Homo sapiens: one gene and its partner. The protein of the gene in region 1 purifies or fractionates together with the protein of each later gene. This does not show direct contact. Each region holds a gene or a part of one and is shown in the gene's direction. Other genes may lie near its edges.

Region 1 (3,423 bases):
CCTCAGAAAGCCTATATCTTTGTCAGCTATAAAGAGCATTTACTTTGTTTTTACTGCAGTTGTTTAATATAGTAGTATCAATTCTGTATTTTAAGCTTGATAATCCAGCAGCAAATTGAGATTAATGGAAGGTTGGAAAAAAAGGCTATGAAACAAAATGCAACCTTTCCCACATGAATATAGGCACAAAATGATGATTTGTAATCCTGAATGCCTTCCACATCTTATTTCTGATACTTTCCTTTTTTCCATACTATTTTATCCATTTCGTACAGCTTACCCATTTCCTTTATCACACTCTGTTCCTGCTTCTGTGAACTTTGGATTCTCTGCTCTATTTGAGCATTGTTCAGAAGTCACTGAAATATTTGAGTTGTCAGAACTATGTGTTTTCTGGGTGCTTCATTTCTTATCCAATTCTCCTAATTCCACTGTAGAAGCTTTTTTCAAGAAGTAAAAAAAAAAAAAAAAAAAAAAAAAAAAAAAAAAAAAAAAAAAAAAAAAGGCAGTGCTTTGCTTTCTTGATATATTTCAGATTGGGAATCAAGATGGGAAAACAAGGAATTATCAACAAAGAAGGATATTTATGATGAAGATTCACCCCAACCAGTAACAATGGAAAAAGTTGTAAAACAAAGTTATGAATTTTCAAATTCTAATAAGAATTTGGAATATACAGAATGCGACACATTTAGAAGCACCTTTCATTCAAAGTCTACTCTTTCTGAACCACAAAACAATTCTGCTGAAGGGAATTCACACAAATATGATATATTAAAGAAGAATTTATCAAAAAAGTCAGTTATAAAAAGTGAGAGAATAAATGGTGGAAAGAAACTTTTAAATTCTAATAAAAGTGGGGCAGCCTTCAACCAGAGCAAATCTCTTACCCTTCCCCAGACTTGTAATAGAGAGAAAATCTATACATGCAGTGAATGTGGGAAAGCCTTTGGCAAACAGTCAATCCTCAGTCGCCACTGGAGAATTCATACAGGAGAGAAGCCCTATGAATGTCGTGAATGTGGGAAGACTTTTAGCCATGGTTCATCCCTTACACGACATCAGATAAGCCATAGTGGAGAGAAACCTTACAAATGCATTGAATGTGGGAAGGCCTTTAGCCATGGCTCATCACTTACTAACCATCAGAGCACTCACACGGGAGAGAAACCGTATGAATGTATGAACTGTGGAAAGTCTTTTAGTCGTGTGTCCCTTCTCATTCAGCATCTAAGAATTCATACGCAAGAAAAACGCTATGAGTGTCGTATATGTGGAAAGGCCTTCATTCATAGTTCGTCTCTCATTCACCATCAGAAAAGCCATACTGGAGAGAAGCCTTATGAATGTAGAGAATGTGGGAAAGCTTTCTGCTGTAGCTCACACCTTACTCAACATCAAAGAATTCACAGTATGAAGAAAAAATATGAATGCAACAAATGTCTCAAGGTCTTTAGTAGCTTCTCATTTCTTGTTCAACATCAGAGTATTCATACTGAAGAAAAACCGTTTGAAGTTTAGAAATGCAGGAAATCCTTCAACCAGCTTGAATCACTGAATATGCATTTGAGAAATCACATTAGATTGAAACCCTACGAATGCAGTATATGTGGGAAAGCCTTTAGTCATAGGTCGTCCCTGCTTCAACATCACAGTATTCATACTGGAGAGAAACCTTACGAATGTATTAAATGTGGGAAGACCTTCAGCTGTAGTTCAAACCTTACTGTACATCAGAGAATTCATACTGGAGAAAAGCCATATAAATGTAGTGAGTGTGGGAAAGCTTTTAGCAAAGGCTCGAATCTTACTGCCCATCAAAGAGTACATAATGGAGAGAAACCCAATAGTGTGGTAAGTGTGGAAAAGCCTTTAGATCATATGAATCCCTATACATGTGAGAAATCTTACAGAAGAGAAGCAGTGTTTATCACGGTAAACTTCATTCATAGATCCTCCCTTATTTAACATCAGAAAAATGTATACTGGGGAAAAGTTGTATGAAGGTGGTGAACATGGGAGACTTTTAGCAATGATGCAGATTTTTTTATTAGAGTTTATACTGTAGAGAAATCATATGAAGTCAATAAATGTGGGAAAGCCTTTGTCAGTATTAATCCCTTAATTGACCTAAGTATACTCACACTAGGAAAAATCTGTGTACATGTAGCAAATGTGGGAAAGACTATAGGCAATAGGAATCTCCTGCAAACTCCTACAGGAGAAAAGTTGTATGAATGTGGAAACTTTAGAAATTGAAGGAATTTTTCAGTTCCAAGTGCATCCCTTATTCTATAGGAAATAAACTGGAGACAAATCTCATTTAAGAGATGCAGCAAAGTGTTCACTAAGAGTGTTTATCTTGCCAGACATAAGAAGATGAATGGTAGAGCAACCTGAAGGATTTAGAAATTACATATAAATCTTTGCAGTTATGCTATTTGTAAACAGGATTATATAGGAGAGCAAATAAACATAAGTATGCATTTCTTAGAGCAGTAGCTTGCAGTTTCAGTTGAGTTCTACTTAGAAATTCTTTTTAGCTAGTGGGCATGTGAAGATATTTAGTCACCCAGAGGAGCCAGTAAATGTTATAATGTTAAAAATTAAAGCTGCAAAAGAAATAAAATGGTGTTAATAAAAATTTGGCATCTAATAAAATCATTTTGTATATCATGAACTCTTTCTCTGTGACTGTTTGCGACAAAAAAAAATTTCACTAAGATTAGCCTTAGTATAGCCTTTAGCGGGAGACTAGCAAACTTCGAGAAGAATGGCCTGCTCTTTATACTAAGAATAGCAGTATTTTGGTGAGGATTATTGAGTCCATATCCAGTAGGCTTAATTAAATACATTTCAAGAACATTTACTGAGCATTACTCATGTGTATTACACAGGGATGGGATAAAGGAATCTAGTAGTTCTGAGCTCTAGTGCTGTGTCGAAATCACTGGAAGGACGTGTTAAAGCACAGATTGCTAAGCCTCAGTCCTAGAGTTTCTGTATGAGTTGATTTGAATTTGCATTTTTCACACGTTCTTAGGGGACACTAACACTGTTTGTCCAGAATATAATAATAATGTTATGGTGTCACTGACAACATATTGTTTCCTCAATCTTACCTATTAACCATTTCTTGAGCATCTTCTGTGGACTTAAGAAACACTCCATACTCCTTAAGAGCTTCGAGATGTGTGTGTGTGAAGAGCATTAAGCTTTGGAGTCTTGTTACCTGGGTTTAAATCCAAGTTACATGTATACTGGCTTTGTGACCTTGGACAAACTGTTTCACTGGGTCATGCTGCAGTTTCTCCATCTGTAAAATGGTAATAAACCTATTTCACAGCATTATTATGAAAGTTAAATGAGTTAATTGATGCACAATGTTTACAACAATGCCTGGCCTCTCAATAGCATTCAGTA
Region 2 (4,480 bases), on another chromosome or scaffold:
CCCGGGAGGCGGTGGCTGCAGTGAGCTGAGATGGTGCCACTGCATTCCAGCCTGGGTGAAAGAGCGAGACTCCATCTCAAAAAGAAAAAAAAAAAAAAAGAGGAAACCTAGAGGTAGACAGCAAGGAGAGGTGAAGACCAGTACAAAGCCTCTATCTGAGCCCCAAGGGAAGGCATTTGGGGTCAGGAGCACCTGTAGGTCATCTCCTTGCCTGGGGCTGTGAGGAGCTGGTTTCAAGGTTATCACACATCTGTGCTCCCAGGGCAGCTCATTCTCTCCACCCTGACAGTCACCCAACCTTTGATCTCCTCCTCTCACCACACAGGGGGCTCCAGGCCCCAGCTCCAGAACCCCCTCCCTTCCCGTGACCGCCACCCCAACCCTCCTCCAATTTGGGGAAGCCACAGGGCCTCCCAGGCTGACAAACAGCTGTTCCAGCGGTGGAGGGCAAGTCCCAAGCCTGACTCCGGCTCAGTCACCAAGGTCAGGGCAGAAGAGAGGAGGAGAGGTCAGAGAGGAGGAGTAACGGGAGGAAACCCAAGGGAAACAGAGTGGAAGAAATGGGAATGGGAGGGAGGGGGTGTGAATAAAGAGCGGAGATGAAGAGGCACAAACAGGGGAGAGGCAGCAGGCCTGGGTGGTGGGAGGAGAAAGCAAGAGAGGCCCATTTTAGAGATCTGTTGCACATATTGGTGACTACTCAGTCACTTAGTGACTTTGGGAGACTGAGGCAGGCAGATTGCCTGAGATCAGGAGTTCAAGACCACCCTGGGCAACATGGCAAAACCTTGTCTCTCCTAAAGTACAAAAAATTAGCGGGGCATGTTGGTGGGCGCCTGTAGTCCCAGCTACTCGGGAGGCTGAATGAAGCAGGAGAATCGCTTGAGCCCGGCAGGTGGAGGCTGCAGTGAGCCGAGATCGCGCCACTGCACTCCAGCCTGGGCGACAGAGCAAGACTCTGTCTACAAAAAAAAAAAAAAAGTATTGCATATTTCAAAATTGCTAAAAGAGTACATTTGAAATGTTCTAACCACAAAAAAAGTAGGTGAGGTGATGGATATGTCAATTAACTTGATTTCATCATTCCACAATTTCATCACCTTGTAGGCCGTAAATATATATTTATCAATTAAAACTTTTGAAAAGCATTGGTAAGATGGCAAATAATATGTAATTATGGCGTGTACCTGCAATCATCTAAGAGCACATGTGTTCCAGTTTTAATAATTTTAGTAAAAGGAAAAAAAGAGGCCGGCCCAATCCGCGGCGGCAGGCGCATGGGGGCAGCAGCGAGCACTGCCCAGCAGCGAGCCCTGCCCAGCACAACCTGCTCCCCAGACCAACCCCCGCTCTGGCCGCGCCAAGGCCTCGCCCCCACCCATGTAGCTCCGCCCCACTGCCCTCTCGCTCCGCCCCTGTCCCGCCAGTCCCGCCCCCTCCGACTCCGCCCGGCTTCCGCCAACCAGCCCGGCCCCCGCCCCTCTAGCTCCGCCCCACTGCCGTCCCGTCCCGCCCCGGCACCGCCAGCTCCGCCCCCGCCCCTCTGGCTCCGACCCGCGGCCTCCGCGCCCCGCCCTGCGCGCTCGGGCTGGCTCGGCGGCTGCGGCGGGCGGGCAGGCGGGCAGGCCGGCAGGCGGGTGCGCGGAGGGCTGGTGCCCCGCAGCAGGTGGGCGGGGTGCGGTTGGCGGCGGCGGCTGGGCCGGGGGCTGCCGGCTGCGCTCGGGCCGTGCGCGGCGGCCGTGCGGGCACGCCATGGACTTCAACATGAAGAAGCTGGCGTCGGACGCGGGCATCTTCTTCACCCGGGCGGTGCAGGTGAGGCCTGGCGTCGCGCCGTGCGCCGGGGGCCCGGATGTGCGGCGGGCGGGGAGCACCCTGCGGCAGACGCCTGGGGACGCGGGAAAGCCCTCCCGGGCTGCTGCCCTCGTCCCCGCCGCGGCACACCTCTGCCCCCCTGAGCCCTTGCTGACCGGAAGAGGGAAAGAGCCCGTGCGGCCCGAGCCGGGCCTTGGCCCTGCTGCCTGGGGCGAGGCACCGGTGCCCACCCTTTGGGCTGGTTGGGTTACCCTGCTCCCCTGGCGCCTGCCTGGCTGAGGAGGGGAGGAGGCACCGGCTGGGTGCTACCTCCCTGCCCTTGTCCAGCAGTGACTGGCGCCTGGCGGGGCATTTAGCGACCTGGGTCCCAGGCCCAGGGACTCATGCGTCCACCACAACCCCTTCTCCGAGCCTCAGTCTCCGCACCTGTGCAATGGGCGGCTGGTGCCATGAGTCCCTCATGGCCATTTCACACGTTTGGATAGTCAGGCCGGAAGCCAGGAGTTGTTTCTTTTCTGCTCCACGGGAGGTCTGTTTCCTTGGTCCCTGGGCCTGGGGGATGGAGAGAGGGCTGGGGTCTGGCTGGGAAGCTGTCCAGGCCCACGATGCTGAGATTGGAAGAAGTCCTATCCGTTTAGGGGCAGAGAGTAACAGGCAACTCAACATCATGGGAAGACCTAGGGTCAGGTGTGGGTGGGAATGTGCCCTCCTGTGACCTTGGGGGAGGGGCCTTCATCTCACTGGGCCTCAGTTTCTCAGTCTGAAAAATGGGATCAGTATTCCTGCCTCCCAGGACAGATGCGAGGATTCTGTGGGACTCTGCATATGTGTGCTCACCAAAGGCAAGCTCATTATTGGTGTCAAAGTGGTTAATATTGCACCTGTGCAGCATGTGACCTTGGACAAGTCACTTCTCTCAGAGCCCCGCCCTCCCCTTCTGTAAATCTGGTGTAACACCGTGGTTATGGGATTCAGTGGGATTCCGCAGGCCCGGGGCTGGCCCATCCCAGGGTTCTGGGAGCAGGTCCTGTAGTCTTGTCTTTGTCGTTGTCGTTGTCATCGTTGTTGTTTCTGTTGAGTACAGTTCTCTCCCCACCCCCAACCCGGGCACTCCCCTCCCCAGGAGCCCACACCCAGCCAGCAACCCATGTAGTCATGTTTACTAGAAGGTGCTGTGTCCCGCTGAGGATTAGCATCCCAGCGAGAATTCACTGCTTAATGTGTTCCAAGTCTGGTGGGCAGCCCCAGCCCTAGTGGAGATGCCAGGATCCCAGAGCCCCTCGGATTGGACGGCCCCAGTCCATCTGGGAGGGGGGAACCCACTCTGCTGTTGGTATGGCAACCACACTATCTCCCACATCTGGGAAGAACCTGATCTGCCAGTTCCCTGCTAGGGCTGGGGCCCTGCTGCCTGACCTGGCCAGGGCTCTCAGGACCTAGGCAGGGCAGGGCCTAGGTGTGGCTCCGCTTGGTGGGAGCTGCCCCACAGGGTCACTGTTACTGGAGTGGGAGCCAGCAGTCAGGCCCCAGCCTCGGGGTGGGAGGGAGGGAGCTGAGAGCTTTATAAATAGAGGCTTTCTCTGCTCTGCACGCCCACCCCACTGCTGCCATTTTCCCGGGAGCAGCCTCGGACTCCAGCACCAAACCCCTTCCTCTTGGCAGGATTGGGGCAGAGTGGCAGGCCAGGGGATAGAGAGGCCTGAAATGTGACCTGGCAGGAGAGGCCACAGAGGGGCTCCGCCTGAGACCAAGCTGGCCTGGATGGGAGACAGTCAGGAGGGATGGGAGAGGGGTTCTTTATGATCAATACATGTGATGGGCTCAGGAACCTCCCAGTCCCTGCAGGTACAAGAAACAACTTTAAGAGCCTCCCCGATCCAGCAAGGAACAAGGCCTTGGCCCTGAGATGAGGATCCAGAGGGCAGGATCCCTTTTGTATGGGTCATTCTGGGATGGTCTCCTGCATGGAGGGCCCCTGAACTGTGCTCAGAAAGTAGGGAGGGGCTCATGATGTTGGTCCAAGTGGCAGGAGCAGCCCAGATAAGGGCACCGAGGCAAGAAAACCTAAGGCAGATTTGGACAAGATGCCAGTGGGGGTGGGAGAGGGCAGGAGGAGTGATAGTACTAATACTATTAGTAGTAATTGCAGTAACAGTAATAGTAGTGGTAGAAGTAATACTTATAAAGTCCAGAGAGGTGGTGGCATCGTCATCATGGAGCTAGGCAGACTGCAGTGGACATGGGATGGATGCCGTCTAGTTTGGGAAAGCCTGGTAGAACTTCTCACCTGGGCAGATGTGGCCTGTAAGGGAGGGCGGGGTGGGGAGTGCTGCTCTGAACCTTGGTAAGGAGGGGAGGTGTTGAGGTGCACATTTAGGGTGATGCCCTTGGTACCATCAGGGTAGCTCCTGAGAGCTGAGGAGGGATGTGAGGGAGGCCTGCCTGCCTGCCTGCCTGCCTGCCTGCCTTCCTTCCTTCCTCCCTTAGTCCCTCTCTCCTTTCTTCTTTCCTTCCTTTTTTTTTTTTGAGACAGAGTCTCATCCTGTCGCCGAGGCTGGAGTGCAGTGGCACAATCTCGGCTCACTGCAACCTCCACCTTTCAGGTTCAAGTGATTCTTCTGCCTCAGCCTCCCGAGTAACTGGGATTATAGGCACCTGCCACCAC

What was found.
Region 2: the proteins of ZNF302 (region 1) and SH3GLB2 purify together in Homo sapiens (affinity purification with mass spectrometry; one large-scale study listed by BioGRID and IntAct). This does not show direct contact.

What each region holds. Positions count from the first base shown.
Region 1 is NC_000019.10:34,683,717-34,687,139, forward strand, and holds the end of ZNF302 (zinc finger protein 302), read left to right. Parts: intron 1-275; coding exon of another isoform or gene 276-457; exon of another isoform or gene 458-535; coding exon 536-1,521; 3' UTR 1,522-2,680; downstream 2,681-3,423. UniProt on the Homo sapiens protein: May be involved in transcriptional regulation.
Region 2 is NC_000009.12:129,025,427-129,029,906, reverse strand, and holds the start of SH3GLB2 (endophilin-B2), read left to right. Parts: upstream 1-1,575; 5' UTR 1,576-1,752; coding exon 1,753-1,815; exon of another isoform or gene 1,816-2,248; coding exon of another isoform or gene 2,249-2,344; intron 2,345-4,480.